Linked DNA regions of Homo sapiens: region 1 is linked to region 2. Evidence: fine-mapped expression QTL. A gene starts in region 2. The other region holds a variant in brackets. All regions are shown on one strand. Distances are between the middles of the regions.

Region 1 (11,299 bases), 560 kb before region 2:
ACCAAGGTTGATACAAAGCTTATAACATTATCCTATAGTCTTCCCTATTTGGCCTAACTTGTGTAGAATCAGAAATACCATGTGCCATGTTGGTGTGCTGCACCCTAAAACTTAGAGTATTAAAAAAAAAAAAAAGAAAAGAAATACCAGACGTTTCCTTTTCAGATTGTTGTCTTGTTTCTGAATCCTCAGCTTAATGAGGTAAGCTCCTTTCCCTGGGCCTGGAGACGTCTTTATGTTTAAAAAAAATAAAGAGTGGCATAAGATAGGTAGGTAGAGATTCGACGGTTTTCAGAAATCCTGGCGAGGCTGTCAGGAGTCACATTATAGACAGAATTCAAATGTCAGTGCTGGCCACTGTCTTCAGATTCTTTATGGAAAAAACAGAAATTCCAGTCCTATAAATTACCTATGTAGTATCAATAACGTGTAGAAAATGGCTCAAAAGGGTCTTGTAGAAAGTCTTTTTACATAAACAGAAAACTGTGATCTTTTGTTGGAAACAAATCTACCACTAAAATTTGGTGAGCATTCTTGTTTCCATATGTAGTTTCTAACTCATCAGCAAGGAGGTAAATTTCCAATTAGAATCAAGAATATTTTAAATGATCAGATAAAACTGAGTAAATTAGTTGGTTTAATCAGTCCCCCCATCTCTCATCTCTCCTGGGAAATCATCTGACTTTTGCAAGGTCCTTGGAGTTTTCAGCGTAATCACTTAAGGTCACATTCTATATCAAGTTTCAGTTTAACTTTGCTACAGGATTAGTTTATCACAAAACTTTAGTTGAGTACATTATAATACAGTCATACATCGCTTAGCCACAGGGTAGTTCTGAGAAATGCATCCTTAGGTGATTTTTTTGTGTGAACATCATAAAGTCAACTTACACAAACTTAGGTGATGTAGACTATTACACACCTAGGCTAAATGGTACAACCTATTGCTCCTGGGCTACAAACCTGTACATCACATTATTGTACTGAATACTATAGGTGTTAGGTGTGATGCCTCACACTTATAATACCAACATTTTGGGAGGCTAAGGTGGGAGGATCCCTTGAGGCCAGGAGTTTGAGACCAGCCTGGTCAACATAGTGAGATGCCCCCCGCTGCCAAAACACACCTCCTGTCTCTTAAGTTTTTTAAAAAAAATAGCTGGGAGTGGTGGTGCATGCCTGTAGTCCCAGCTACTCAGGAGGCTGAGGCAGGAGGATTGCTTGAGCCTAAGAGGTTGAGTCTGCAGTGACCCATGATTTTGCCATTGTACTGCAGCCTGGCTGGCAGAACAAAACCCTGTCTAAAAACAAACAAAACAAAACAAACAAACAAACAAAAAAACAAGAAAACAAACTACTGTGGGCAATTGTAACACAGTCGTAAGCATTTGTGTATCTAAACATATCTAAGCATAGAAAAGGTACAGTAAAAATATGGTATAAAAGATAAAAAATAATACACCTGTAGAGGGCGCTTACCATGAATGGAACTTGCAGGACTGGAAGTTGCTCTGAGTGAGTCAATGAGTGAGTGGTGAGTGAATGTGAAGGCCTAGGACATTCCTGTACACTACTGTAGCTTGTATAAACACTGTATCCTTCAGGTACACTAAATTTATTTTTAAAAACTCTTCCTTCTATAGTAAATTAAATTTACTCTTTTACTTTATCAACTTTTGAACTTTTAAAGAAGCTTTGACTCTTTTGTAATAGTAATTAGCTTAAAAAACAAACACATGGAACAGCTATACACAATATTTTATTTCTTTATATCCCTAGTTCATAAGTTTTCTTTGTTTAAAATTACTTATTTGTTTACTTTTTAAACTTTTTTGTTAAAAACTAAGGCACAGACACACAAATTGCCTAGGCTTACACAGGGTCAGGATTGTCAGGACATCACTAGGCAATAGTTTTTCTGCTCCATTATAACCCTACGGGACCACCACATGACCGAAAGTTTATTACGTGGCACATGACTGTACTTCCTTTTGCGGCCCTGTGACATTTTGCTAAAACGTTTCAGTAAAATGTAGATATAAAGAAGGACCAAGGAGTTGCAGCATGAAGTATGGAAAAGGAGTGCAAGAAGCACTGTGTTTGTAGTTGTCACTATAGATCAGTTGGGGAAATGCTTCTCAGTGTTGCTATGACTTAAAGAAAAACTCCAGATGCCATGGTGAGTTACAGCAGAAAGGAAGACACCCAGAAGTTTAAAGAGCAGAAGGATGGACTAAAGTACCAAGAAAATAGAGCGATGTAGGAGTCAGTTCTTCAGCAGCCCCAGAACGTCTAAGGGGAGTGAAATGTCATTAGTAACTCTGGATCTGTTCTTTGATTATATATCAGCAGTTAAATGGTTGTTGAAAAATATTATTGACTTGGTGCCCTCTTTTGTGGCTTTTAAGGTTATTTAGTTCTCTCTAGACAGTAGTTGGGGTATGTACTGGGCACATCACTGCCTAGTTACTTCCTCCTCTAAATGTGAGATGTTTCAGCCTACTGAAGTCGATAAGGAGTCGTTTGTGAGCCTTTCAGTTGCATGCAAGCAGTGCATTCATGTCAAATAAGATGAAATCTGGGCCAAAGAGAGGGTAATTCATTCTACACTTTATAATCAGTAGCAAGAAATACCATCTTTCGAGTCCTACCACCCTCACCTGGTAGGTAGCCTTTTTCCCCTATTCTGTTTTTGTCAAATGAACTTCTTGATCTAATACACTTAATAGGTTTTTTTAAAGGTCCTTATGCAACCAAAAATCTTGTTTTCTTGTTCTTTATACAAGAAAGCAGTGCTAGACCTCTTGGAAGTTTACTTTTCATCTACAAATTTGAATTTGCGGCATTTCTGAGTGTTTCTACCAGTCTCTCTTATGGTTGAGGTCTGTTAATCATTCACTCACTAGTGATAACATTCATGAATATGACATTTTAAATTAGTATCTCACCTCATAGAAAGAATTGTGCAGCTTTTACATCTGCAAGACTGGAGTTGAATATTCCAGTCTTTACATGATTTTTTTCTCCCTCTGTGTCTTTCCTGTCTCTTAATTTTGTTGGTGCATCGGGATTATTAAACAAGTGAAATTTCTCTGTTTTCTGTTGTAAGTACTCCTGCTGTTTCTGTTTGTCCCTGGGACCATTGGCAGTTTTCTCTCCCATCCTCCCTGAGCCATCTCTCCATAGCATGGTTTGCTTCTGAGTTTGATCTTTTGATGATTTTTTGTATTTCACTGGCCACTTCATGAGTTAGCTAAGCTTTGTAGGTGTCCGCACCTCAGGGAGTGGGGCTTGGCCTTTACACCTTAGGTGTGAGAACTTGCACTCCCTAGCCTGGCAAGTGTCACGTGGTGCTTTGACAATACCAAGAGCTGGCTTGGCCTCAAGCAGTGGTTTGAGGGACTGTTCTGCTATTTAATATTGGAAATCATTGACTTTTGGTAAGATAAAGCTACTGGCTTGGAACAGTTAATTTTACTGAGTCAGCTCAACTTGAGTTTGGTGGCAGAGGGTGGCACTCAGTAGGAAAACTAGGGAAAGAAGATCATGAAGTAATGATTATGCACATTCTGGTAACTTATGTGGTTGTCTTTTTATTTTTTCTTGCAAAAGAAAGAAGTTGCAAATTTTTTTTCTTTTTTTGGTCACGGTGTTTTTACTGAAAATTCTAAGTTTATTAAAACAGAACAGAATCTCAATTAGTCCTGTAATCACAAATTTTGTGCTAGTCTACAAATAACAGGTGGTTCAAGCTTTCCCCAGCTTCAGGCTTGGTGTAATATGTGGCATTCATCTTCCATCTTACTACTTAATAGGAATGGTAACCGTTTACTCACATATTTTTATTTTTACACTTTTTATTGACCACAGTTCTTGTCTGTGAACACACAAGTCTAACTGGAACTGTTTTATGAGACTTCTGTGGCTTTTGGTGAAATAAAGAATTTTTAAAGAAACCAGTCCAGCGTGATGATTTTTCTAATGAATGTCAAAGCCAAGCAAGGGAGGCTCAGAGGAACTGAATGTCTCCAGCTGCTAAGGCTCTACTGTCTGAAAAGCTTTTGGTGGTGTGTAATTAAAAACCATAGACATCAGAGTGCTAGTGTTTGAAAACTCACAGAAGCAAGCAAGGGGGTCTTTTCAGAGAATGAGCCCCGCTCTAGGTCTTTGCTTACCTCTTCTCTCCAGAGAAAACTCAGAGGCATAAAAGGTGTCCCTGCCTCTCTCACAGGTAGATGTATGGTGTGTGTGGTGCTGTACGCTTTGGCTTCTATCTGCACACACTGCTCTCTGTCCCATTTCATACCTTGACAGTTGTCAGTGTGGTTCCAAATTAGCTTTTTTATGTTTCTTCTCTTGCCAGGAGTGGCTTTAAGGTGAAGAAGCATGAAACTCAGTCTCTTGCCTGGGTGCATGTTCTCAGGTGAGTCTGTGCTCATCCCCAGAATGTCTCTTAGACCAGGGGTCCCCCAGCGGGAGTGGATCATAAGGACT[T/G]TCCAATGAGTGCCTGAGAAACCAATTTCCAGATCCTCACTGTCCCTGAAGAAAAGGCGCCTGAAGAAAAGGGAACCCTTTCACAATGACTCTCTCTCTCTCTTTGTCTCCATTTTTTTTTTTTTGTAAAACTCTCACTAAAAGCTACAAAGATGCATCACCACAGGGTGTGAAAGTCTCCAGGGCACCAAAGGGAAGATCTGAAATATTGGTATAGGTTCTAAGAAGATAATTGACTCTAATAACTGAAAGATATTTTTCTTAAGTCAGATGGTTTCCCAATTCATTGGTTTCGACAAAATAAGAAGACCTGAGTTGTTAGCTGATAGATCTAAAAATAATCTTTGATGATAGAATTTTTGGGCACATGACTTGGAAAGGGGTTCAAAGAATTGAAAGTCCTTCTGTTACAGAACTACCTTCTGTTTCATCTATCGTTTATATAAATAAGGTTTCTTAATAATTATAATTATAAAAATAGAAATCATGAATAAAATTGACATTGACCTCTGTTACATTCTAGCAATAAACAGTATGCATCCATGACCATATGAACTAATTGCAAAACACACATAAACCAAAACCCAAGCCCATCTGATTGCAACGAGATCCTTTTGTTCTTTTTAAAACTTTATGTCAGTATGCTTATGATTTTAGAAATACATTCATATTGGCTAATAGAATTCAATTTTAACATAACTTATTCTGTACAATTTGGACCAGAAATTTGGTATATGGTGTAAGATGTAAAAAAAGGGGTGCAGTGGGGGGAAATTTGCAATCTGAGTTATTTTTCATCTGTTACAAATGTGTAAAAGATTCTCCCTCAAATTTTGCTAATGTAGGCAACAAGAACTATGAGAAATTTATCTTTTGTTTTCTTTAAAGAAAAACCCAAACCCACATATTTTTGTACTGTAAAAGTTTTTAAGAATTAGTGCAATAAAACATTTTGTAGATGATATAAAAATTTACTTTTGTGTCTAATACTTATCAAAACTTGCAATATTTTGAAAATAAGTTGTGCATTAGTAAATGTAACAATAACTCATCAGCAGAAAAAAAAATTTAACACCTCAAGACTTATAGTCAAAGAAAAAAATGTAACAGAGGCATTGGATAGAGACCTTTAAAAGACTTTCAGTCATGCAGATGTTTTTCATTGGGATAATTTCTTGATGGAAGTGGAATGAATAACGTAATGGAAAATGAATAACGTAAATTTCTGACTTATTCAGGAACTTGTTTGTGTAAATTTAAAATGGATCATATGGTATCATATCACAAAGGTAACTAGATAGCATTAAGCAAATTCAATATTTAGAATAAGGCAGATATTACATTCTTTGCAATTATTTAAACTTATGCTGAAAAGTGTTTAGATGTCATTTGAAAATGAAATGGGGTACATAGATTTAAAAAAATTAGGAGGTATCTGATCAAAAAAAATTGAAAACCACTGTCTTAGACCACTTAAACTGCTTGCTGATAAACTTAGCCTAGAGAAGCTCATTTTTTAAAACCTCAGACTCAAATTACAGAACCTAGGTTCTATAAAACAGCATGTCACAATTGAAAGTTCCAGCTTCCTCCTTGCTTTGTACCCAGATCTGTGGCTAACTCCCTCAGATATCTTTATGGAGTTGTATCCACTTGGTTCCATTCATGAGATGTCACTTTTCCCCATTGCTTGCCCTCCTAAAGGGTAACATCTTCTTTGTTGTGTTTCTCAGGATGAAGGGGCAGTGATCTACCAGATTTCAGACATTTCTAATAGGGATGTCCACGCTACCAATGAGGAGAAACTGACATCCACGTCATGTGGTCAGAAATCAGGTGCGGGCAAGGTGAAAGGTGACCAGAGGGAGACCTGGAGTACTTTGAATGTTCCAGTGCTCCCATGTCTACCATAAATCATGCGTTTTCATCCTCAGAAGCAGGTATGGAAGCATATCTTCATCTTTCTAATGTATATATGCATAGAAATGCCTGAAAGCCTAATGAAGCAGGAGGCACCTTACAGAGCTTAAAGAATTGGGTCACTGGAAGGATAGATTTAGGATTATTGACCTATGCTTTTGCTTCTTTATCGAGAAAGTGGACACTAACAAAAGTGCTTATTGAAGTACTAGGAACATAGGGATACTTGTGGCAAGTTGTATAGGAGACGCTGATGTGTGTGAGACTGCTTGAATTTCTTTATAATTTTCTGTCAATATGGCCATATCTTGTAGTGGTGTGTTAGTTCATTTGCGTTGCTGTAAAGGAATACCTGAGACTGGATGATTTATAAGAAAAAGAGGTTTATTTGGTTCATTTTTCTTCAGGCTGTAGAAGAAGCATGGCACCAGTGTCTGCTTCTGGTGAGGGACTCAGGAAGCTTCCAATAATGGCAGAAGGCAAAGGGGAGCAAGTGGTCACATGGCGAGAGGGAAGGAGGAAGAGAGAGGGGTAGGAAGATGCCAAGCTGTTTTTAAGAGACATATCTTGCAGAAACTAAGAGACCAAGAAGTCACTCATTACCACAAGGAAGGCACCAAGCTATTCATGCGGGATACGCCCCTATGACCCAAACACCTCCCATTAGGCCTCACTCACCTCCACCATTGGGATTAAGTGTCAACATGAGATTCAGAGGGGATAAATATTCAAACTATATCAGATGGCCTATAAATATGTCATACATTATGCAGCCATAAAAAAAATGGGTTCATGTCCTTTGCAGGGACATGGATGAAGCTGGAAGCCATCATTCTCAGCAAAGTAACAGAGGAACAGAGGACCAAACACCACATGTTCTTACTCTTAAGTTAGAGTTGAACAATGAGAACACATAGACACAGGAAGGGGAGAATCACACACCAGGGTCTGTCAGGGGGGTGGGGGAAAATGGGAGGGGGAGCATAAACACAAATACCTAATGCGTGCTGGGCTTAAAAACTAGATGACAAGCTGATAGGTGCAGTAAACCACCATGGCAGATATATACCTATGTAACAAACCTGCACATTCTGCACAAGTATCCCAGAACTTAAAGTAAAACAAAAAATAAATAAAATAAATATGTCATATGTCTGACTTTTTATGATTTTTATGTTCATTGTTTAACTTACAGAAATAATAACTAATACATATGGTGCCTTATCATGTGCAGGCATTGTTCTAAGTGCCTTGCATATACTTATTCATAGCAAGGTGTTACTCTTTTCTCCTTTTTTCAGAGAAACAAAGAAGGCAAAAAGTTAAGTAACTTGACTAAAGTCTCTTGGCAAGTGTAGGAAAGAAAAGTGGTATCTTTCCTCACTCATCACAAGGTTCATGGCTGAGACATCTCTAACAGAAGACAGATCAACAAGACAAAAGCATACAAATATATTTAATATAAGTTTTACATGACATTAGAGCCTCCAGAAATGAAGACCCAAACAGGGAAAACTGTACTTTTATGGAGAGTTGTGCAGAAGTACAATTGGAGGACAGAAGGGTGTGATCTAATGGTAATAAACTAGGGGAACTTAGTCAATCCTGTTTATTTCAATTCCTCTTAGTGTCTGTGTCTTTCAGGATAAGGACTTTGTTTTTCTCTGGGTGTAGGGAGGACCCCTCTGTTATTAGGTCTTATGACCTATTTTCATGGGAAGGTCTGAGGGATTCCTTTATGGCCTGCTTCAGGGGAGAGGGCAGGAGAGGTGCCAAGAGACCTTCCTGCTTCTGCTGTGTCCTCAGGTGCGAAGGCACCAGATTTTGGTGAAGTGTGTTCTGAACCTTGTCAGTAGTAAATGGTAGAACTACATTTGACTCTAAGCAGTCTGGTTCCATGATCGTTTAGCCACAATGTCAAAGTGTGAAGAGATTATCTTAATGACCCTAGGCTACTGTAAATTTTCCTGGTACAGTGTGTTAGGTTGAAACTGACCAGTGCACTGTAAAATCTTTCTTAAAGTGCTAATGAGGAAGTTGGACTAAGCAGGGCTGAAGCCTCTTACTGATGGACTTTTCAGATCATTCTAGAGCTAAGCCCCTCTCCTGGGTACCAAGTTAGATGGATGGCTTTAAACTTTACTTATGAAAAGTTTAGAAACATGTTCCTGACTACATTAAACATTATTAAAAACTTAGATCTTCTTAAACAACATAATTTTATTTGTGGCATTTTATGCACAGAATTTTAAAAGTCATGATCTGCCATTAAGCCAGGGAAGCAGATGGAAAGTCAGGACTTGGAGCAATTTATTCCCCCTGGTCTCCTTCCCATCTCAGATCCCAGTCTCTCTTCTATAAAATATTGGGCCAAGCATTGTTCCTGATTTTGTCCAACACTGCCTTCTGCCCTGACATCTTTCCCAAAGACCGTGTTCACCATTCTGCCGGTTTCTCTGGGTTAATCCTGAGTATTCTTGCACCTGCCTTCATTTCGTCCATCTGAAGTGTTTTCCTTTGCTGCCTCCTACACAGATCTGCACATCCCTTCAGGTCTCTCCTGCATGCTTTATGCTCCCATGACATTTCCTATTCCCCTTCCTGTTCCACAGCACCTAGTGCAGTGTGTCAATTACAGGAAAGTAATATTATAAACTTACTGAGGTTAGAGACTAGGAGACGGTCATTTTCGAGTCACCTTTGACACAGTACATGGTAAACATTTATTGAATTATATTCTTCCTCACCCGAGGAAATTCCTTCAACGAAAATTTATACAGACAGCTGGGACACTTGTTTACATCTCTTCCCCCTACTGTTTGCTAACTTTGAAGATAGTACTGTATGCTATCTTCATACTGAAAGAAACCTGAGCCCAACCTGTCCCTCCACGTTCAGGAACTTATAAAGCATGGCGGACACGTCTTCTTCCATCCTTTGGCACGTCTCCTTCTCTATGCCTAAGACAGAAAGTCATTTTTATAGTTATCCCAATAAGTTGGTTCCTTATTGGGAACCAGATTTAAAAAGGGGGAAGAGATTTAAAGAACCGGCTACACTGTAACTGATCAGCCACATCACAGGCAAGTGGAGGCTGCTGTACTGGTGTGGGGGTGGCTACAGGCCCTGTTAGGTGAATCCAGACCATGTCCTGGGGAGTGTCCACTTGGAGTTGGGTCCTGATGGCTACTTACCTAGATGTTTTCTGGGAAATGAGACCCTCACACAGCCATGGGGAGGAAGCCGCCATGTTGGTAAAATGCCCAGTTTCTTTCTCTGAGTACATGGCAAGTGGGAAACAAGGTCATACCATGGAATCTGGGCTTGAGCCTTTGGTAGGGAGTGGGGAGGTTGAAGGTTTTTGAACAAGGGAGTGAGGGTCACATTTGTGTTTTAAATAATTAACTGACAACAATAGTAGTTAGTGATTGCCATGTGGAGGATTGTAGCTTTAAAGTTTTGTATGCTTTTCTGTATTTTTATGTTTACTTCAATGAGTGCATCTTCTGGTTATTTTAAATGTCACCCTCCACCCTAGTAGAGTAGAGGATAGACCTGAGATGAGGAAGCCCATTTGAAGGGTATGGAGGAAGAATGAGTTTAGATTTGCTGGCTTAAATTTTAAAGCTTATTATCTTATCTGCTGCATTAATTAGATCAAGGCCACTCTTCTGGGCTGGAATTTAAGTTCATTCAGACTTGATGATAAAAAAAAAAATCAGTGTTACAGTGTGTTCACTTTCTGCCGTAATGCCATGGTTAGTCCAGTGCATTAGCCAAAATTGTAATGGACACAAGGGTGCAGGCTTGCTGTTCTTTCTGCCTGAAGGTTGATGACCTGTTTGTGGCTGACTAACCTGTGCTCTTCTTCTGAATGTCATGGACTTGTAATGCTGAACTGCACAGCGCTCAGCAGAATGCCAGCGCTCCTTTTAAATAAAATTTTGGAATGCTGTTTATGTGTTCACTGTCATTCTTGGCCTGCACTGGGGTTTCCAAGAGCCTTTCACTAGGGGGAAAAGCAACCAACTTATTGGGATAACTATAAAAATGACTTTCTGTCTTAGGCATAGAGAAGGAGACGTGCCAAAAGGTGGAAGAAGACGTGTCCACCATGCTTGTAAGTTCCTGAATGTGGAGGGCCAGGTGGGGCTCGGGTTTCTTTCAGTATTTGTTTTGAAGCCCATGTGAATTTGTTAAACTCTGGTCAGTGTTAGGTGATGAGGATAAAATACAAATAAGACACAGTTTCTTCACTTGAGGAACATGTAGTCTCTGCAGTGTTCTGTACAGTAGCCCTAGCTGCAGGTAGCTGTTGAGCACTTGAACCATAGCTAGTCAGAATTGAGATATCCGGTATGTGTAATGTGCAACCATTTTTTGAAGACTCAGTACAAAAAGAAGCATAAAATGTCTCAATATTTTATATTAACTACATGTTGACATAATATTTTGGATATATTGGGTTAACTAAGGTATATTATTATTATTATTATTATTAGAGACAGTCTCACTCTGTCACCCAGGCTAGAGTGCCGTGGTGCAATCTCAGCTAACTGCAACCTCCACCTCCTGGGCTCAAGTGATCCTCCCACTGCAGCATCCCAACTAGCTGGGACAACATGAGCATGGCACTATACCTGCTAATTTTTGTATTTTTTGTAGAGATGGGGTCTTGCCATGTTGCCTAGGCTGGTCCCAAACTCCTGAGCTCAAGTGATCTGCCCACCTTGGCCTCCCAAAGTGCTGGGATCACAGGCATGAGCCACCACACCTGGCTGGTTTACTCAGTTCTTGAAACAAACTTTAAACTTCCTGATTCCCAACTTATTCACCCATAAAATGAGCAGCACCCATCTGCCTCTTCAGAGTAGTTGTGAGGATA
Region 2 (11,299 bases):
AGCACAGTGGCGTGATTTTGGCTCACTGCAACCTCCAACTCCGGGGTTCACGCAATTCTCCTGCCTCAACTCCTGAGTAGCTGGGATTACAAGCGCGTGCCACCACAACCGGCTAATTTTTGTATTTTTTTTTTGTGGAGACGGAGTTTCATCGTGTTGGCAAGTATGGTCTTGATCTCCTGACCTTGTGATCTGCCAGCCTCGGCCTTCCAAAGTGCTGAGATTACAGGCGTGAGCCACCGCACCCGGCCACTTCAATTGATTATTAATTTGCAAGTTTGTAATGCTTTCAATGGTTCAACCCGTTTGATGTTAGTTCTGAGTTCAGACTTGTGAGTGACAGACACACAAAGGCAGCTACGAGACTATCAAATTCACTCAGCTTAATTTTTGTGGTGGTTGCTATTATCTATTTTTATTTGTGTATATTTGAATGCCAAATACCAAAATTCAAGCATAAACTTTGTGATGGATTGTTTGAAAAGTGGAGATTTATTAAATGAGGAACGATTCCTTTTGAAACTTTTTGTGCAGTATGCAAAAATGGAGAAAGACACCAGCACATAATAACAGCTAAACATGGAAGATATATGATTTCCTCAACTAATATATAAAATTGTAAACAGTTTTTTTTTATTAAAAAGAATTCAAGGCCAGGTGTGGTGGCTCACACGTGTAATCCTTGCACTTTGGGAGGCCTAGGTGGGTGGATTGCCTGAGCTCAGTAGTTCGAGAACAGCCTGGGCAAACCTTGGTGAAACCTTGTCTCTACTAAAAATACAAAAAAATAGCTGGGTGTGGTGGCAAGCACCTGTAATTCCAGCTACTCGGGAGGCTGAGGCAAGAGAATTGCTTGAACCTGGGAGGTGGAGGTTGCAGTGAGCTGAGATTGTGCCACTGTACTCCAGCCTGGGTGACAGAGTGAGACTGTCTCAAAAAAAAAAAAAAAAGAGAATTCAGATTGAGATATAGTAATGGCAATGGAAGTTGTAAACATCTGCCACACTATATAACAGCAGCAGTCTTTCAGCTCAAATGACAGTTTGAAAGTATTACTGAAAGTATTACTGCTAGAAGTATTTTCTGATTCCAAAGATGCAATCAAATTTTGAAGAGCCAAGAGGAAATCTACTACAACAACAAAAGTAATAGCTTCACTATGATCACAGAGATGATCAATGATCTAAATGCCTCACCTATTTTCAGCAGAGCCATGGATACAAGTAATCACAAGGCAGAAGATATTTTCCCTTTGCTTCTGAACTGCTTTTGGTGGCAATGATACAAATACAAATTGTGGTTGATGTTTGCATAAGGGCACAGACATGCTTGGTCCAAGCTGAAGTAAAGATTCCAAGTTGTGGACCGTCCTGCCCACATTCTGCATCATGATGTCAAAATAGCATCTGATGTTCTTTGCATTTTCATTGAAGTAATTATCACAAAATTGTTCTCTTACTTCAGCATTTACACTATTAGAATTGAGTGATTAAAGGATTGTGTGATTTTTTTTTTGGCATTCGATATTCTTCATTTCCTTTGCAGTTAGAAACTCATTGGCTCCTGTAACTAACACAGTTGATAAAGTTGTTAGTTTACGTAAAGTCTTGAAATAATAATTTTAATTTTCAAGAAAAGACTCCAAAATTTTTGTTTACTTTAAAAATACTCCATTGAGTGAAGTTTACTTGTTTTTTATTCATAGTTTTTTTTTTTCACTAGGAAACAAATATTTTATTCCTTTTTTCTGTTGCTCAGAGGACAGATCGTGATACAGAAAACAGCAGTCTAGCCACAGAGGCTGGGTTTGGTTGATTTCCACAGGCACATGGAGGACAGGAATGGTGGGATCCGGTTTGAGCTCCCAGTCTCATTATGACTTTTGACCTCTTCCTGTACCCTCTGCAGCAGTGCAGCATGGAGCCTACTGGGTCTCTAACCTACTTAACTCACCTCTGTGACCACTGAGGATGCGGGAGTTGTCTCTGCTGACCAAGGGGACATGGGCAGAGAAGCAAAGGCCCCTTACTCTCCCTCTGTCCATTCCAGTGTGCTGGCCGCAACAGAATGGGAATCCTTCAGTCATCACCTGCTGGAGACTCAGCTTCAGGGATGGGAGCCTGTGTCCAGAAAAACTGGGCTATAGATTGAAGTCTCAGAAGCAGGAAGGTTGGAGATGGGTGGGGCACCAGAGCCCCTGTGGTTATTGCTGATAAGATATGCAGGGGCTACATTCCCCAAGTGTAGATTATTAGTCCTGGGCCCAGGCTGGGCACGGTGGCTGACACCTGTAATCCCAGAATTTTGGGAGGCCTAGGCAGGTGGATTGCTTGAGGCCAGGGAAAACCCCATCTCTACTAAAAATACAAAAATTAGCTGGGCATGGTGGTGCGTGCCTATAGTCCCAGCTACTCGGGAGGCCCAGGCATGAGAATCCCTTGAACCCATGTTGCCATGAGCTGAGATCGTGCCACTGCATTCCGGCTTGGGTGACACAGTGGGACTCTGTCTGAATAAAGAAAAAGAAAAAAAGCAGCAGCCCTGGGCCTGGAATCCCTGGGTGCTATGTGAAAGGCAGGGCAGATGGGGCTCCCTGGGGCTTCCCCAGGGAGAAAAATAACCATGGAAGGGTATAGTAGCCTCCTGAAGGTAATGCCGGGCTCACAAACTCCTTGCTTTGCTTTGTATCTCCAATTGCTGATCTTCAGAACAGACGGGTTGGAGTGGGATAAGGAAGTGAGGTTCTTGTAAAAGAAGTGAAGAGACTCCATGAAGAAAGATGAGGAAAGTGGTGCAAACCTTCCCAGGTCCCAAGACAGCTGGAGACTCCTGCCCATGCTCTAAAGGGAAGGAGCTAGACTCTCCAGGGAAAAAAGCAGACTCCCAGGAGTGAGAGGTGATGGGGGGCAGAGAGGAGCAGACGGCCACATGGCTCAGCCCCTGCCCAGGAAAGTGAGTCCACAGTTCACTAACTATAATCACCATGAACAAGTAGCCATGAACACTATAGTCAGCAAACACACACACAGACACATAACACGAGTTGGAGGAGCCTGCAGGCTGCAGTGGTGAGGCAAGAGATTAGTTGGATCATCAGGTGGAGGAATGGTGTTAGAGGGGACAGGGAAGGGCATGGCAGGACAAAAAAGTTCTTGGCTTCTCTTCTGGAAAGATTTGTTGCTGAAGTGGCTGTTTTCTTAAGCATCAATATTTGCATCTAAAAGTTCAAGCAGCTGCCTTCAGGTTCCGGAGGCTTCCCACTGGAGGGCTGCACTTCATTCAGCTCTCTGCTTTCTGGAGTTTTGCTGCATTTGCAGTGATGAGGTTCTCCACCTGGGCTTCCTCCTCCCCTGGGGTCCCGGGCTTCTGATTGAAACTCCACTTGCATCTGCAACCTAGGATAAGGAAGATCCCAACGGAGAAGAGGACCACAGCACATACCAACCCCTGAATCCTCAGGGTCTGTTAGTCATAATGAAAATGGTCAATTTCCTTCTCCTACTCAGCTGCACTGGCCATGACAATGAGGGCCAACAGGCTGCATAGGAATATCAGCACCACCTCCATGGTGCCTGCACAGCCAGTCCCCTTCCTGAGATGATCCCAGGAGGATGTGTCGAGTCCCAAGGAGCCTAAGAGTGGCATGTCCCTAGTTTTCAATCTCTTTAGGGATAGGATTATGCAAATTGAAAGAAGAGCAAACAATGTTACTGAAATAATCCATGGCATAATGGAACCTGAATGCATTAAAGAAATAATGGAGGGCAGGAGAGGTGGCTCACATCTGTAATCTCAGCACTTTGGCAGGCTGAGGCGGATGGATCAATTGAGGTCAGGAGTTTGAGACCAGCCTGGTCAATATGGTGAAACCTAGTCTCTACTAAAAACAGGAAAAATTAGCTGGGCGTGGTGGCATGTGCCTGTAATCCCAGCTACTGGGGAGGCTGAGGCAGGAGAATCACTTGAATCTGGGAGGCGGAGGTTGCAGTGACCCGAGGTCTTGGCACTGCACTGCAGCCCAGGTGACAGAATGAGATCCAGTCTAAAAAAAAAAAAAAAAAGAAATAATGGAATATTCACAAGTGTCAAGACTGTTTCTTAAAATGCAAAAGCATTAGGCTGGGTGCAGTGGCTCATGCCTGTAATCCCAGCACTTTGGGAGGCCGAAGCGGGCGGATCACGAGGTCAGGAGTTCGAGACCAGCCTGGCCAACACAGTGAAACCCGATCTCTACTAAAATTACAAAAATTAGCCGGGTGTGGTGGCACAAGCCTGTAGTCCCAGCTACTTGGGACGCTGAGGCAGGAGAGTCGCTTGAACCCAGGAGGCGGAGGTTGCGGTGAGCCGAGATCATGTCACTGCACTCCAGCCTGGGTTACAGAGCCAGACTCCATCTCAAAAAAAAAAAAAAAAAAAAAAAACATTATGAGCAGGAAAATAAATTGTGTCTCGAAGTGATAATCATTGTTGTACTTACCATGACTGTCTTCTGAAATGCATCTCAACCCTTGAATAATTTGATTCTTTTACATGGATGGTACTAAATGCTTTTCCAGCATGGGAACAAGTGGGATTATCATCAGTGGTGGTAAAGAAGGGAATAGAAATGGAGAAAAATGCTTCTTTTTTGGTCAGTGGACATTTATTTTTTATTTTTATTTTAACTTAAACTTCAATAGCTTTTGGAGTACAAGTGGTTTTTGGTTATGGATGAATTATAAAGTGGTGGATTCTGAGATTTTAGTGCACCTGTCACCTGAGTAGTGTACACTGTACCTAATGTATAGTTTTTTTTTTTTCATTTTTGAGATGGAGTTTTGCTCTTGTTGCCCAAGCTGAAGTGCAATGGCGCGATTTCAGCTCACTACAACCTCCACCTCTCGAGTTCAAGGGATTCCCCTGCCTCAGCCTCCCAAATAGCTGGGACTGCAGGTGTGTGCCACCACGCCCAGCTAATTTTGTAGTTTTAGTGGAGACGGGGTTTCACCGTGTTACCTAGGCTGGTCTTGAACTCCTGACTTCGTGATCCACCCGCCTCCGCCTCCCAAAGTGCTGAGACTACAGGCGTGAGCCACCGCGCCTGGCCATGTGTAGTTTTTTTAACCTCCGGCCTCCTTCCTACCAGCCCCTTCTGAGTCTCTAAAGTCCATTATATCACTCTGTATGCCTCTGCGTACTCATAGCTTAGCTCCCACTTATAAGTGAGAACCTACGGTTTTTGGTTTTCCACTCCTGTATTACCTCTGCCTGTGAACTTTAAAAAGTTATCGTGATCAAGAGATCCTGCATACTCCTGAAGAATGGAAAATGCATGTTTGCCATGCAAGATGGTATTACGTGGTTTAACAAATAAAATTTGAAGAGCAATTCCGAGTTATCTTTACGACAGCTTACAGGCTGGTAATGCTCATGTCCAGCGTGTTTTCTCACGGTTAGCGTCCAATGGACCAGAAAGGAGCAAGTGAAGCTCTCCACACTGGCGCAAGTGTAGGTGGTGCTGCGGCAGCGTCGCGGGGCCACAGGAACCGACCTCGTCTGGAGAAATTCCACTCGTGAATTCTGCCAAATGAGGAAGTGTTGAGGACGGCCAAATCATCAGGGGGATGTAATTCATGAGAAAGCTGTGTAATTTAAATACTCATAATTTATTTCAGCTAACGAATAAAACTGCAGTACTGCACTTGCCGCATCTGGGAACTAACTGCCCAATGCGGCTGAAACCTCATGCCCTTTCAAAAGGAGTGGCGCGAGGGCTTGTGGGAAATGTAGTCTGCACTTTCTAAGGGAGCGGCGCGAGGGCTTGTGGGAAATGAAGCGTGCACTTTCTAAGGGAGCGGCGCGAGGACTTGTGGGAGATGTAGTGTGCACTTTTCGGCCCCCGTCGCGGGAGCCGCTTCGGGCCTTCTGGGCATGTCTGCCATATGGCTCCAGGTTTGTTTTTCTCCCCGGCACTCTGACGGGGAGGGCTCCCGGCATCTCCTGGCGTCCGGGTAGAGGACGCGGAGGGTGAGTAAGGGAGGGCAGGGGCGAGGGTGGACTGGGGGTTCCGCGCGGCCTGGGGGTGGGAGAGAGGGAACGCCTTTGCCGCCTGGCCTGGGTCCGAATCCTGCCTCGGTTCTTGTGCTCCCAAAGGGAATGCGCAAGTCCCGCGCCTGTGACAAGTGAGGTTGGATTTTCTCTTCCCTGAGGTGAAGGATGCCCGGAGGCCTCCGCAGGACGGCGCAGAAACGGGCCTTCTGCCCAATAGATGCGCGCTTCTCTCATTCTTTCCCCTCAGAATCTCGCTGTCCTCACAACCACCTGTGGTCGGCGTCGCCGCGGTGTCACTGCGATGCCGAGGCGAATGGGGTGGGGGGAAGCGCCCGCGGGGCGGGGAGGGACCCTGCAGGCGCGGACTCCACACCCAGCCTCTGGCCAGCGTCACTCGGCTTGCTGTGTCCTCGCAGGTCGCAGCTTCATTGCCTGATGTCTTCGGGAAGTATTTTGAAGTCATCGTGGCTGTGGATTGGGGAATTTCTTGTTTCCACTGACCTGTGAGGCCGCGCACGCGGAGGGAGGCACCCCAGGCCCTCCGGCACTGTCCAGCCTCGCCTGTGTCCCCATTAGCACCAGTGGGCATTTTCAGAGGGTCCAGCTCATGGCTCAAGTGACAGGAAGATGTAGGAGCTTTCTGTCTTGAATGAGGATTCGAACCAAAGGGCTTAGGCCCAGCTGTCTTGGAGCAAAGCAGCTGTTGTGGGGTAAGAAGGGAAGGGTGGGGGGCGAGGGCCCAGGGGCCCTCCTAGGAGGACACCCAACCCGTTGGGCTGACACCTCACTAGAGATCTAGAGCACGGGTGGGAGGAGCAGAGGCTCGATTTGTGTCCTTTCCAGACCCCCACAGGCTGGGAGCTTTGTGCCCATTCAGATGTGGGGGCAGAAGAGGGCAAGGCCGAAGGAGCAGACAGCACCGCTTCTTGGGGAGTTGTGAAGGCATCATGCGGAGGGAAGAGCTTAGCAGCCAAGTGGAGGACAGCACCCTCCATGCCTGGATTCGTTACTCGCTCGTTCTAGATGCTGAGCTGCTGGCGCACTGCAGCACAACTAGAGATGTACGGATGCCCCCATCTTGATCTTACAGAATCAGAGGTACAGCCGCGAGAAAGGTCTGTAAGTTATCTATTTACGCTTTATTTAAAAGATGGGATGGGGTGGGGTGGACAGGAAACGAGCTTAACGTGTTAAGTTACTGATGACATTGACACATTTTGTTGTGGCAGAGTCAAGAACAGACAGAGTCGCTTGAGGACTCAGGAGGGTGTTTGCTGCGTTGACAACAGAGTAAGTAAAAATCAGTTTGCTTTTTTAAATCCAAAGATTGTTTTGAGAACCTCAAATCAAGTTAGAGCAAGTTCGTTTTCCTTCCAAAAAAACTGGGCTGGGCTGGGCACGGTGGTTCACGCCAGTAATCCCAGCACTTTGGGAGGCTGAGGGGGGTGGATCAAGAGGTCAGGAGTTCGAGACCAGCCTGGCCAACATGGTGAAACCCCGTCTCTACTAAAAATGCAAAAAATTAGCCGGGTGTGGTGGTGCGCACCTGTAGTCCCAGCGACTTGGGAGGCTGAGGCAGGAGGTTGCGGTGAGTCGAGATCATGCCATCGCACTCCAGCCTGGGCAACAAACAGGGCAGGACTCTGTCTCAAAAAAGCAAACAAACAAACAAAAAAAACTGGGCTGAAAAATACCACATCGCTTTTTTCAAAACCTTGTTGGGATTCTCTGGTTTGTAATAAAGATTAAAACCTGAGTATTTTTGTTTAGCATCAGTTTTAATGAAAGTATTATGTTCCACTCTTTGGCTTTTCCTAACTTGCTTAATTAGTTTAATATATCGGTTTGCATACTCTGTTAGAGTACAGCATAAATTGTTTTTAAGTCAGTAGAAAACAAACGTTTTTACATTTGAAAACTAATGAGTCCAAGCAGTACATAATCATGCCAGAGTCATGCATGGGCGTGTGAGTATCTCCCTTTCAGAGATGTTTTGCCGGCTGCGAAGTGGACCTTTTAAGGCAAGTGACATCACTCATGATCTTTTCTTATTTCTCAGCTACACCCTCACAGTTTGCTCTGCTCTTCCAACACCAGTGGAAGATGATCACATCCCAGGTAAGTTGTTTATTTTTTCACCGTTTTGCTTAAAAGTAATTATTGAGGTTTAAAAAATGTCTATACATTCATATGAAAGTAGAAATAACATCAGGGAAAATATAGAGGAGAGGTCACATTACATTTCATGGGTCAAATGCAGCCTGCCGCATGTTTTTTTATGGTCCACAAACGAAGGATGGTTTTTATATTTTTAGGTGGCTGAGGGAAAAAAAACAAGAATTATATGAAATTCAGATTTCATTATATATAAAGTTTTATTGGGACTCAGCTATACTCATGTATTTATGTGTTGTCTGTTGGTACTTTCATACTATGAGGGCAGAGTTGACTGGTTGCAGCAGAGACTGTAATGGCCCACAAGCCTAAAATATTTACTGTGAGACCCTTTACAGAAAATGTTTGCTGATTTCTGATAAAGAGTTGATGAAGAGTAAAACAAAAATGTCATGTAAGTGAATGCAGATCTTGTGATCTCACAGAGTTGTGAAACTGGAACATAAAACAGTTTGTCAATGGGCTTTATTAGGTGACACTGTGAAACTTCTGATGACAATCTTGCAGTTACATGAAAAAGTAGTACAACGAAGTGAATAATTCATGTGCAGTCCAGGGGAAAACTTAAGCGATATCAAGAGAAAGTATGTGATTAAAAAATTCAAATAGGCCGGGCTAGGTGGCTCATGCCTATAATCCCAACACTTTGGGAGGGCGAGGTGGGTGGATCATGAGGTCAGGAGTCCGAGACCAGCCTGACCAACATGGTGAAACCCCGTCTCTACTAAAAATACAAAAATTAGCTTGGCATGTTGGCGTGCACCTGTAATCCCAGCTAGTCAGGAGGCTGAGGCAGGAGAATCGCTTGAACCCAGGAGGCGGAGGGTGCAGTGAGCCGAGATTGAGATTGCACCACTGCACTCCAGCCTGGGTGACAGAGTGAGACTCTGTCTCAAAAAAAAAAAAAAAAAAAAAAAAAAAAAAATCACATGAATTGTGTAGCATTAGGACTTATGGTTGTTTAAAGAAACAGTCCTGGTAGGCTAGGGTGATCATGGGTTGTTAGGATGTGGCAGGCTTTGTGACAGCCCTAGAGACTGGGCAGAACTGGAATATTTGCAATAACTTTCAAGAGATTCTACCTAAAAAAAAAATTATGGTAAAATACACATCACATGAAATTCACAATTAAGCCATTTTAAAGTATAGAATTCAATGACTTTAGTACGTTCACAATGTTGTACCACCATAACCACCATTTATTTCTGGAATATTTTCATCACACCAAAAGGAAACATAGTACCCTTAATAAGCAGTGTTGTAACTTAATAAGCAGTTGCTCCCTTTTTCCCCTCTGCTCCAGCCCCTAGCAACCAATAATCTCCTGTCTTTATAGATATGCCTGTTTTAGATATGGCATACAAATGGAATCATACAATTTGTAGCCTTTTGTGTCTGATCTCTCACTTAGAATAATGTTTTCAAGACCCATTTATGTTGTAGTTGTATATCAGTACTTTGTCCCTTTTTATGACTGAACAATATTCTATTATATGGATATACCAACTTTTGTTTATCCATTCATCTGTTGATGGACATTGGGGGTCATCCTGTGTTTCGCTATCGTGAATAGTGCTCCTATGAGCATTCATGTACAAATATTTGTTAGAATACATGCTCTCAGTTGTTCTGGGTATATACCTACGAGTGAAATTGCTGGGTCATATGGTAAGTTTACGTTTAATTTATTGTGAAACTGACAGTTTTCCACAGCAGGGTGCTTTGCAATCCATAGGAATTTTTAGTTAGCTTTTCTATTTCTGCAAAAAAGTATGTTGAGTTTTTGATAAGTATTGCATTGGGTAAGTATTGGAGTGGGTAATAACACTTTGGGGAGTGTTATCATCTTAATATTAAATCTTATAATCCATGAATGTAAGATTTTTTTCCCCTAGGTCTTCTTTCCTTCATTAATGTTTTGTAGTTTTCAGTGTACAAGTGTTGCATATCCTTGCTTAAATTTATTAGTTTTTCATTTAAATGCTATTGTAAATTATATGAAATTCAGACTTCAGTGTCTATAAAGTTTTATTGAGACTCAGCCATACTCATGTATTTATGTATAGTCTGTGGGTACTTTCACACTACGAGGGCAGAATTGACTGGTTGCAGTAGAGACTGTAATGGCCCATAAGCCTAAAATTTTTTTGTTTAAATGCTATTATAAGTGGAATTGTTAATTTGCTTTTTGACTGTGCACAACTAATTTTTGAGTGTTGATCTTGTATCCTGTAATTTTGCTGAATTTGTTTCCTACTTGTAGTAGTTCCTTTGTGGATACTTCAGTATTTTTTGCATATAAGATCATGTCATCTGCAAACGAAAATATTTTTATTTCTTTCCAATTTGGGTGTGTGTATTTATTTAGCCTAATTGCTGTGGCTGGAATTTTTAGTACAATGTTGAATATATGTGGCCAAAGCAGGAATCTTTATTTATTGTTAGTTTTTTGTTTTAGCAATCTTAACCATTTTGGGATGTACAATTCAGAAGCAGTGTTATGTATGTGTATTCATATCGTACATATAATCTCCAGAACTTTTTCATCTTGGAAAATTGAAATTCTGTACCTATTAAACAGTAACTCCCCATTTTCCCTTCCTCCTTGCCCCTGGCAACCACCATCCTACTTTCTGTTCTATGAGTTTCACTACTTTTGCTATATCTCATTTAAGTGAAATCATACAGTATTTGTCTTATTGTAACAGTCTTATTTCACCTAGCATAATGTCCTCAAGCTTCCTCAGTGTTGTAGCATGTGTCAGAATTTATCTCCTTTTTAATGTTGAATGATATTTCATTGTACCCATGTTTTATTAATTCATCTGTCAGTGGACATTTGGGTTCCTTCCTCCTTTTAACTGTTGTGAATAATGTTACTGTGAACGTGGGTGTACAACTATCTCTTTGAGATCCTTCTTTCAGTTCTTTTGGTTATATACTCAAAAGTGGTATGGCTGGAATCTATGGTAATTCTATTTTTAATTTCTTGAGGAAACACCAACCTGTTTTCTACAGAAGGTACACCATTTTTACAGTCCCATCCTCAGTTGTGCAGGATTCTGATTTCTCCATATCCTTGCCAACACTCGTT

The links. PIP is the estimated chance that this variant, and not a neighbour inherited with it, causes the effect. A credible set is the group of variants that fine-mapping cannot tell apart.
Region 1: its variant is the best candidate, but not a certain one, in a credible set for the expression of ZNF37A in lymphoblastoid cells (TwinsUK, PIP 0.67).

The regions. Positions count from the first base shown.
Region 1 is chr10:37,524,118-37,535,416 of GRCh38, forward strand. It overlaps the pseudogene TACC1P1. Among named protein-coding and RNA genes, the nearest start is that of LINC00993, 220 kb to the left of the region's middle. The variant T/G (reference allele first, on the strand shown) is at 4,495.
Region 2 is chr10:38,088,485-38,099,783 of GRCh38, forward strand. ZNF37A (zinc finger protein 37A) reads left to right here and starts at 5,853. Exons shown (of 8, transcript NM_001324250.3): 1 at 5,853-6,006; 2 at 6,447-6,740; 3 at 7,054-7,145; 4 at 7,260-7,320; 5 at 8,090-8,148. The coding sequence starts at 8,134. It also overlaps the pseudogene FXYD6P2. RefSeq lists an enhancer at 5,807-5,996.